2 linked regions of the Homo sapiens genome follow. The protein of the gene in region 1 purifies or fractionates together with the protein of each later gene. This does not show direct contact. Each region holds a gene or a part of one and is shown on either strand. Other genes may lie near its edges.

The links.
Region 2: the proteins of ZNF286A (region 1) and ADPRH purify together in Homo sapiens (affinity purification with mass spectrometry; one large-scale study listed by BioGRID and IntAct). This does not show direct contact.

Annotation. Positions count from the first base shown.
Region 1 is NC_000017.11:15,698,436-15,702,755, reverse strand, and holds the start of ZNF286A (zinc finger protein 286A), read right to left. Parts: upstream 3,005-4,320; 5' UTR 2,986-3,004; coding exon of another isoform or gene 2,979-2,985; intron 2,709-2,978; exon of another isoform or gene 2,622-2,708; 5' UTR 2,549-2,621; coding exon of another isoform or gene 2,427-2,548; coding exon 2,390-2,426; intron 1,605-2,389; coding exon 1,516-1,604; intron 1-1,515. UniProt on the Homo sapiens protein: May be involved in transcriptional regulation.
Region 2 is NC_000003.12:119,577,818-119,582,400, forward strand, and holds the start of ADPRH (ADP-ribosylarginine hydrolase), read left to right. Parts: upstream 1-1,674; 5' UTR 1,675-2,034; exon of another isoform or gene 2,035-2,733; 5' UTR 2,734-2,819; intron 2,820-4,316; 5' UTR 4,317-4,352; coding exon 4,353-4,583.

The sequences.
Region 1 (4,320 bases):
TAAAGCTTCTTGACTAATAAAGTCTTCAAGACTAATGTAAGACAGTTGAGAAGCCAATGGAGACAGGCAAGTACATAAAGGAAGTGACTTTTACAAACACTATGAACGTGCAGTATCTACTTTTTACACCTTGGATTACAGAAGCAAAGAGAAAGGCTGATTGAGGAATCTCTGGGTTGTGGTATGCCACACACATCATGGAAAGCTCCTTTTTTCCTCCTCAACTTCTTTTTTTTTTTTTTTTTGAGACAGTTTCACTCTCACCCAGGCTGGAGTGCAGTAGCCCTATCTGGGCTCACTGCAACCTCTGCCTCCTGGGTTCAAGTGATTCTCATGCCTCAGTCTCCGGAGTAGCTGGGATTACAAGTGCGCACCACCAAGCCCAGCTAATTTTTGTATTTTAAGTAAAGACGAGGTTTCACCATGTTGGTCAGGCTGGTCTTGAACTCCTGACCTCAGGTGATCTGCCCGCCTCAGCCTCTCAAAGTGCTGGGATTACAGGCATGAGCCACCGTGCCCAGCCCTAACTTCTTTTAATAAAAGTTTCAAACATACAAAAGTTGAAAGATGAATGCAATAATCACTGATATAGTACAATCACCGCCTAAATTCAAAAATTCTTTTTTTTTTTTTTTGAGACAGAGTTTCCCTCATTGCCCAGGCTGGAATGCAGTGGTGCGATCTCGGATTACTGCAACCTCCACCTCCTAGGTTCAAGTGATTCTCCTGCCCCAGCCTCCAGACTAGCTGGGACTACAGGTGCGTGCCACCATGCCTGGCTAATTTTTTGTGTTTTTAGTAGAGACGGGGTTTCACCGTGTTAGCAAGGATGGTCTCAATCTCCTCACCTAGTCATCTACCTGCCTTGGCCTCCCAAAGTGCTGGAATTACAGGCATGAGCCACCACGCCCAGCCAAACATTCGTAATATTTGTCATATTTACCTTTTGGGAGAGAGGGGCCAACAATATAAAAGTAAGTTGCAGACATGATCATACCTTAGCTTTCATCATCTCAGAGGGCTGGATTCTAACTGTAACTCTTTAAATTACGCCTTCATAGGCTTTCCTTTTCCAGTATTTCTTTGAACTATGTGAGTATTTATTATTTTTACAATCACTTCAGCATTTAAGTGCTTTCTTAGATTGCCACTTAAGGTCACATACATGCTGTTTCCTCTAGAGAAACAAGTTTTAAGAGGTATGTACCACATTATATTTAAAATAGTTTCTCACATTACCAAGCACAGAAATGAGCATAGGAGGCTAAGAAAGGGAAATGCTGCTTACCTATCTGTTGAGGGACAATAAACACTAAATAGGGAAGAAATCCATCCAGTGTTATAAGTAGAAAACATTTTCTTCTGAGTCCATTAGTCTCCTGACTAGTCTCTTAGATTTAGAACTCAGCTCTGCAGATGGGCTTTAGTGGATAAAGAAACTCCACATCACAAAGAAGGGAGTGCATCTGTACTCTAAGAAACAAGGTGTAATTCCAATAATCAGCACTCACTCACCTGGGATCTGGCCGTGAGGCGCAGAGCAGCCACTTCTCCCTCTTCTGTGCTCTTCTCTTGGAAATGGGGAGAATCCTGGGAAGACAGAGCTAACGACAAGAAAGCAGTAATGATGAGACCTAGGCTTAACGTGCCACTCAGATTTAAAGTCTAAAAACCACTTCAACATACTATATGTGCTGCCTACAAACACTGAGACTGAAGGTACCCCCAAAACAACCGACCTCCTCCCAGGACCCTCTTCCCGGGATATGCGGGAATATTGCTACTCTGGGCTCGAATTCAGTTGCTATAATCATAACACATTCTGTAAGATGGCATCCTCTGATCTAGAAATTAGAATATGTCAGTAAATTTCCCAGTTTAATCTATACTCGTTGGTTCTCACTCTGAAAGCTTATTTATAATGTAGATTGCTGGACCCCACCTCAAAGTAATAAGCATTAGTTGAGCCTGGGGTACAATCCAGAAATCTAACAACCACCCCAGGGGGAATTCTGGTGTAGGAGGTCACAGCACAACCTTCATGAAACTGGTCAGGTAGAATGGAAGTCAGTCATTAACTACTACGCCTGTTTTCTCCTATGTAAAACAAAACATTTTTGACAACCAAAGAGGTGAATTCTTGCCATAGAAGTTAACATTTCACTCACATTTTGGGGGTAGCTTTGAAGGGTCCACTGTGTGCCCAGCTGCCATGGAAAGGGCGGTGCTCCCATACCAAGCCCTTCAGTCTCACTTAAAAAGCCCATCCATCCCCAAGACAATGGAGACAGCCAGCCAAGAGCCACCTCCCCTGAGCCAACCGTTTTCCCTTCAGGAGCAGGAATTTCGTCCTTCCACGCTACAAGTTCAACACGTCCGCAATTCTCACCTCCTTTCTCAGGCATTTCAGCCAAATCTGTCTCCATGATCACCACCTCCTCCTTGTTCTGGAGATTCTGCTCTTCACCCCAATTCAGATCTCCCTGGCCAGACGAGTTAGAAGCCCCCCGGGCCTCGTGGTCCCACTTCCTGCCTTCCCTCCTGGGCTCTGATGAAAGGCCTGGGTTAGATCGGGTCTCTTTCTCACCGTGGAGTCTGCCTCAGTCCTACGGCGCTGGAGCCTGGAAGCCCGGGGACAGCATCCCTGAGGCTGGGTCCTCAGATGTCTGTCCCTACCGCTTGAAGCTGTCCCTGGGGGAACCGGGCACCTGGAAGAGGTGACGCTGGGGCATCAGGAGTTTGGACAAATTCTGCCGCGCTCGGGGCACTGGCCCAGAACCCCGCGACCACCCCGCCCGTGGCACAACCGCGTCCCCCGAGGAGAGGATCAGGCCAGAGTGAGAAGGGACAGGGCTCATGGTCTGCCCTCGAGGCCCCTTTAACAAACGCGCACTCTAGCCCCGACTCGGCACAGAACGACCCGGGGAACCACCGCCGAGGCCGAGCCGAGACGAGCGACATCACCACAAGCAACTCACCTCCCATCCCGGGCCTCACAAAGGGGACGAACTTCTTTGGCCAGCTCGGAGTCGCGCATGCGTAAGAAGGAGCGGAGCCAGGCGTGCTGCCCTCATCCCGCCCGGAACTACAATTCCCAGAAGCGCCTTGGCATCGCCAGACTCCGGTTCTCCGCAGGTGGGAGCACCCGTGGTGCGGCTGGGAGAATCGGACGATCGAAGAGCTCCGTCCGTCTCGCGAGAGTATGAGGCAGCATCTCCTGTGTCTAATCCTCAGAGCAAGGGAGGGAGGGAGCAGCGGAGACGCGGACCGGAGTCAGGGTCCGTCCCCGCGCTTTGTCTGCACAAGTTCCTGCGGCACAGTGCTTAGGGCTGCTGAGTTCAACCCAAATTACTCCGGTGTAAGATACGTTAAAATACATAGCTTTTATCCATATTTTGTGCGCCCAGAACTCATCCTTTTGCTTTCAAAACATACGAAGGATGTTTTTAGGAAGAGCAGGTCCCTCTTTGTACACTCAGTCAGATGTTCCTGTATCCACAGACTACTTGTAATCCTAAAATTCATGTATTTAAAATGAGTTGAAAAGATTGAACCTGTTGTAACAAATTTAAGCAATAGGTTCTTTGCAGACATAAGCATTAGTTTAAACATATCATAAAAGGTGGTTCTTTCAAGGGAGAGTTATTCAGTCTCTCCAATTCTGTTAGAGGACTAACCCATCCACCTCCAGCTTCGTGTCTAGACTGCCCTCCTTTTCTCAGTGAATGACATTACTGCCCACTCACTCATTTGCACAAACCAGAGCCTGAATATTCTTAACTCTTTGATCTCACCATCTATTTATCACCAAGTCCTATTCATTGTATCTTAAATAACTCAATTGTTTCCATCTTTCTCTATTCTCAGTAGCATTACCTTAGTTGGGGCCACCACCATTTCACTAGGATTGCCGTTGCAGCCTGGTAACTGGATTCCCTAACTAAGGTTTTCTCTACCACCAATCTGTTCTCCACACTTTCTGGCTAGTGCTCTTTCTAAAACAAGAATATGCTATTACTTTAGTGCTTCAAACCGTTCAGTGGCTTTTAGAAACTTCAAGGAAAGATGATTTCCAGCTCCCAGAAGGGATTTGTAACTCCCATTATCTCAGCCACCTGGTAGTTACACCTTTGTGCAATCCCCTCTTGTGTATGGACTGGGACTTGCTTCTAACCAATACAGTGCAATAAAGGTGACATAAAAGTCTAACGTGTGTCTTGCTAGGAGACTCCTCTCTTGCTGGCTTTGATGAAGTGGTGGTGATGTTGGGGAGGCCCATATGACAAGGAACTGAGGATGGCCTCCAGCCAATAGCCTGCA
Region 2 (4,583 bases), on another chromosome or scaffold:
CTTAATTTGCCTTGCTTGCTTTTGGTCACTTGCTTCTAGTCGATTTTAAAACCTGCATAGCTAAAAGTCATGTAGCTAGACGATACATAACTAAATTCCACTTGCCTCCTTATAGATAACTTCTCTGATAGGACACCATGGAAAATATTGCTTAAGTTATTTTTCAGGAACTTAGAGTCAGTTCTTGTCCAGTTCAAGCCACCAGCCCTTCATCTTGGCCTGCGTGAGTGTCCAATGGGTGACCTTTTGACATCAGAAGGCCCAAAACTCCACTCTCAGATCATGCTAACGTCACGATTTTGTGAACATGTGTTCTATGAACAGCCATGAAGATTGACTATGCTTGCTCAGATTACCGATTGCCTCACTTTTCCTTACCTCATCTTTCTCTGAACCTTGGACCACCTTCCTCCCCTATCCCATAAGCACTCCTAAAATTCCATCTTTGGAAAGGCACATTTGAGGCCTGTTCTCCAGTCTCCTGTCTTGGCTGCCTTGTGAATACACCCTTTCTCTACTGCAAAACTTGTGCGCCTCAGTGATTGGCATACTGTGTGAAAGACAAATGAGCCTGGTTCCCTGACAGGAGCTGAGCTGTCTCTTCCTGCATGCAGCCAGCAATAAAGATTCCTCTAGGAGAGGTATGTTCTCCACGCCAGAGCGAGAAAATAGCTCTCATCACCAGAGATTTGGAACTGGAGGTGGCATTTGGACTGGAGTAAACATTCTTGCAAAGTAACCATTATCTTCCACCTGTTTTACACCCCACCCCCCATATATCTCCTAGGGGCTCCCCTAGAAATTTTTTACCACCCTAGCCGGATTTTCTTTGTCCTGTCACTTCTTCTTAAATTTATCACTCTTTTTCTAAAAAGTATAAAAGCATCTTGCTTTGGACACTTTCTTCAGGATTCAGTCTCTTAACATCCCCATGTACATGTAAAATTAATAAAATTTGTATACTTTTCTCTTGTTAATCTGCCTAGTGTCAATTTGGCTTCTAGATGCAGCTGATTAGCTCACTAAGAGCTAGAGGGTGTAGGGGGTTGGAGGTGATCTCTGCCTCCCTTATTGGTGAACTTGATTTTTGTAAACACTCAAAAGTCACTTAGGCTAGAGTTGGAGATGGAGATGGTTATTCACTGGGAAGGCCACAAGAGAATGTTTTAAAGTGATGGAAATATTTCATATCTCGATTATGGTGTAAGGACATTTCATTATATATAAATTATATATCAATTTTTTAAAAAGCTCTCAGACCAAGGCTAGTCATTACAGCAAGAAAATAGGCATAGCAAATTTAAAACTTTGGAGAAATATATAGAATATTTGCATATGGTGATTCTGATTTGCTTTAAAAGTGACATGATTAATGTATTTAGACAAAAATACTCTTCGTTTTTCTTTGCTTTTATTTACGATCAGGATACAAGAATTCTACGCTGCTGCCAAATAAATGACTAGTTAAAATTAACTAACTGAATCCTTAACAACCATTCTAAGAGGCAGATATTATTATCCCACTTTATGCGTGAGGGCCCAGAACCCTGGCAAGGGCGGCACACTCAGTACGCTCTTCAAGCATCTGGGCACACCCGGTCCACTACAGTCCTACAAAGTCGGACGTGAGCACGGGCGAAGGCGTCAGCCGGGGCCACACGGGAGTCACTGACCACAGCCAGGCGAGAGCCGGCTTTCCGGTGCCGCCACATTCCGGGCACCAGGCTCCGGGCTCTTCAGAGCATTTGGGGCGGGCGACGGAGGTCCCGTCCACTCTCGCTTGGGTGCAGAAGGGCGCGGCGGTGCCAGGAAGCCGCCTTGGAGGCTCCAAGATTAGCTCACTCAGCGCGGCCAAGCGCAGGTGCGGGGGCCCTCGCCGCCACCCTGCTTATCTGGGGACAGTCCCGGAACCCGGTGACCCGGCTCCGCCCCAACCCGCGCCCTCGTCCACCCGCAGCAGCCAAGGCCTCTTCCCCGGCCCCGGGAGCCCGCGCCACGCCCGTCGCTCGCGCGTTCCAGTCCAGGCTACAGCAGGTATCGCGATCCCGGCCCTCGGCCCCGCGCTCCCCTCCCCCGCCCCTGGCGCTCTCCGAGTGTGGCCGACCATGAGGATTCCCAGTCTTGCAAATCGTGGGAGCGTGTCAACCGCCCCGTTTCTTTCCAAAGCCGGGCATGGCCCGGAAGCAGCTGATCAGATCTTAGTTCTGAATGTATAGTTCGGGTACGAGAATGTGACCCGTGAAAGTTCAGAGGAGTTAAGTAATTACAGCGTTCTGAAAGCGAACGTTAAAGGGAATTTACAACCGAAAAAAGATGCCGGTCTTCTTCCCCCATCCCAGCTTGCAATTCACAGAAGCACACATTAGGGTGGAGCCAGAAGGAATTACGGAAAGGACAATGAGGACATTGAGAGGGAGGGTATGGGGGGTTAAAGTTAGTCCTCCGAGGCCAAGAAGCAGAGTGTCTTGGCCTAGTGTCTGAAAATCGCAGCGCAGGACGGAACTTCCGAGAGCCTATACCTCCCCACTTCCCCCTCCAGTTTACAGATGGGCAAACCGCTGTCCCGGGTGTCTGTCAGGTCTAGTAGCCCAGAATCTCAGTGCCTAGGCTTCACTGTAAATAATAAACTATGTAAATAACATTTACAAATATCCTTTGTGAGCTCAGAAACTCAGCATTACCAGTAACTGGGTAGTGGAACGCATCCATCTTCGTCGTTTACTCCTTCTCCAGGGGCTCTCCAGCCTGCATTCCATGGCCAACAGCAGTGCAGCTGCAGAAGCACTTCTGGAAGCCTCCTGACTTGAACTAGACCTTGGGTAAATAGGGTTTAGATAAGTGGAGGGGAGGGAAAAGTTTCACCTGAGGGGAGAATGAGCTAGTCTGCCAGACCCTTATAAAAGTATTGGCCTGGATGGGATGGAGGGCTTTGACCTGAAAGCCACAGGGAGAAGGGAACCCTGAGGAATTGGCTGAAAGAGGGGGGTTCTTAGGAAATGCACCAACAGGGAAGCCAGCGCTTTACCAGGGATTTCATTCATGGTGGGTATATTATTAATAGAGATTCGAATTCTCTAGAAGCTGATCATTTCTAAGAGAAACAATATTTAAACATTACTGTCGAAGGAAAGGTTGTGGGGAGAAAATGTTCTAGTTCTAAAACAGAACACCCATTTTCCCTGGTTGTATATGAATAATACAAATATGTCAAAAATCAAGCTTACTATGTGCCAAGCACTCTAAGAACTTTTTTTTTTTTTTTTTTTTTGAGACAGAGTCTTGGTCTGTCGCCCAGGCTGGAGTGCAGTGGCACAATCTCGGCTCACTGCAACCTCTGCCTCCTGGGTTCAAGCGATTCTCCTGCCTCAGCCTCCTGAGTAGCTGGGACTACAGGCATGCACCACCATACCCGGCTAATTTTTGTATTTTTAGTAGAGATGGGGTTTCACCCTGTTGGCCAGGCTGGTCTCGATCTCCTGACCTCAGATGAGCCACCCACCTCGGCCTCCCAAAGTGCTGAGATTACAGGCGTGAGCCACCGCGTCCAGCCAACTTTATGAAATTTAATTTATTTATTCCTAACAACAAATCCAGGAGGTTGTTACTTTTTAAAATCAGTGCCATTTTATAAATGTGGAGGCTGAGGCACCAAGAGGTTGCCCAAGGTAAGAAGATCTGGACTGAGGCTGAGTGGTGTGATACCAAGCATCCTGGCTTGGCTGGAATCAGATTTGGGTTCCAGTACTTCCACTCCTCTTGTTTTGTGAATTTAGCTTATCTGAGCCTTCATTTTCTTATCTGTGAAATGCATACTGTAATCCCTCCCTATTAGTGAGACAATGAATGTGCAGGTGCTTTGTGAACTACACATTGTGACACTAATAGGAAGTGTAAAGCCTTGCACTTCTAAGGCCAAATCCCAGCTAAGAAGAGCAAATGATGAGCTGGGTTTGACTTGCAGAATTTAGTGGGCTTACTACTCACCAAGAGGCAAGAGATACAGTTGTAGTTATGATGATAGACTTTGGAGTCAGATGGACCTATGTTGGGATCCCAGCCCTGCCACTTATTGGCTCTGTGACCTGAGACAAGTCACTGAACATTTCTCAAACTGCATTATCTCCATGGTCCTCCATTTGTTCATACATAAAATGGGCTTTATATTCCTCATAGAGCAGTGATGAGGATTACATGAGATGCCACTGATACAATGTCTGCAAGTAGTGAGTGCTCAATAAAACATAGCTAGAGTCGTTGTTTTTTCTGATTCTTCTTGCTCCTCATCCTATTTCCTTTGTCTTAATTTCCCCACAAAGACACCCTCTCCAGAGCCCAGCAATTGTGAGGGACTGATGGAGAAGTATGTGGCTGCTATGGTGCTGAGTGCAGCTGGAGATGCCCTGGGGTACTACAATGGGAAGTGGGAGTTCCTCCAGGATGGGGAGAAGATACACCGGCAGTTGGCCCAGCTGGGCGGCTTGGATGCCCTAGACGTGGGAAGGTGGAGAGTTAGTGACGACACAGTGATGCACTTGGCCACAGCAGAAGCTCTTGTGGAAGCTGGGAAAGCCCCTAAGTTGACT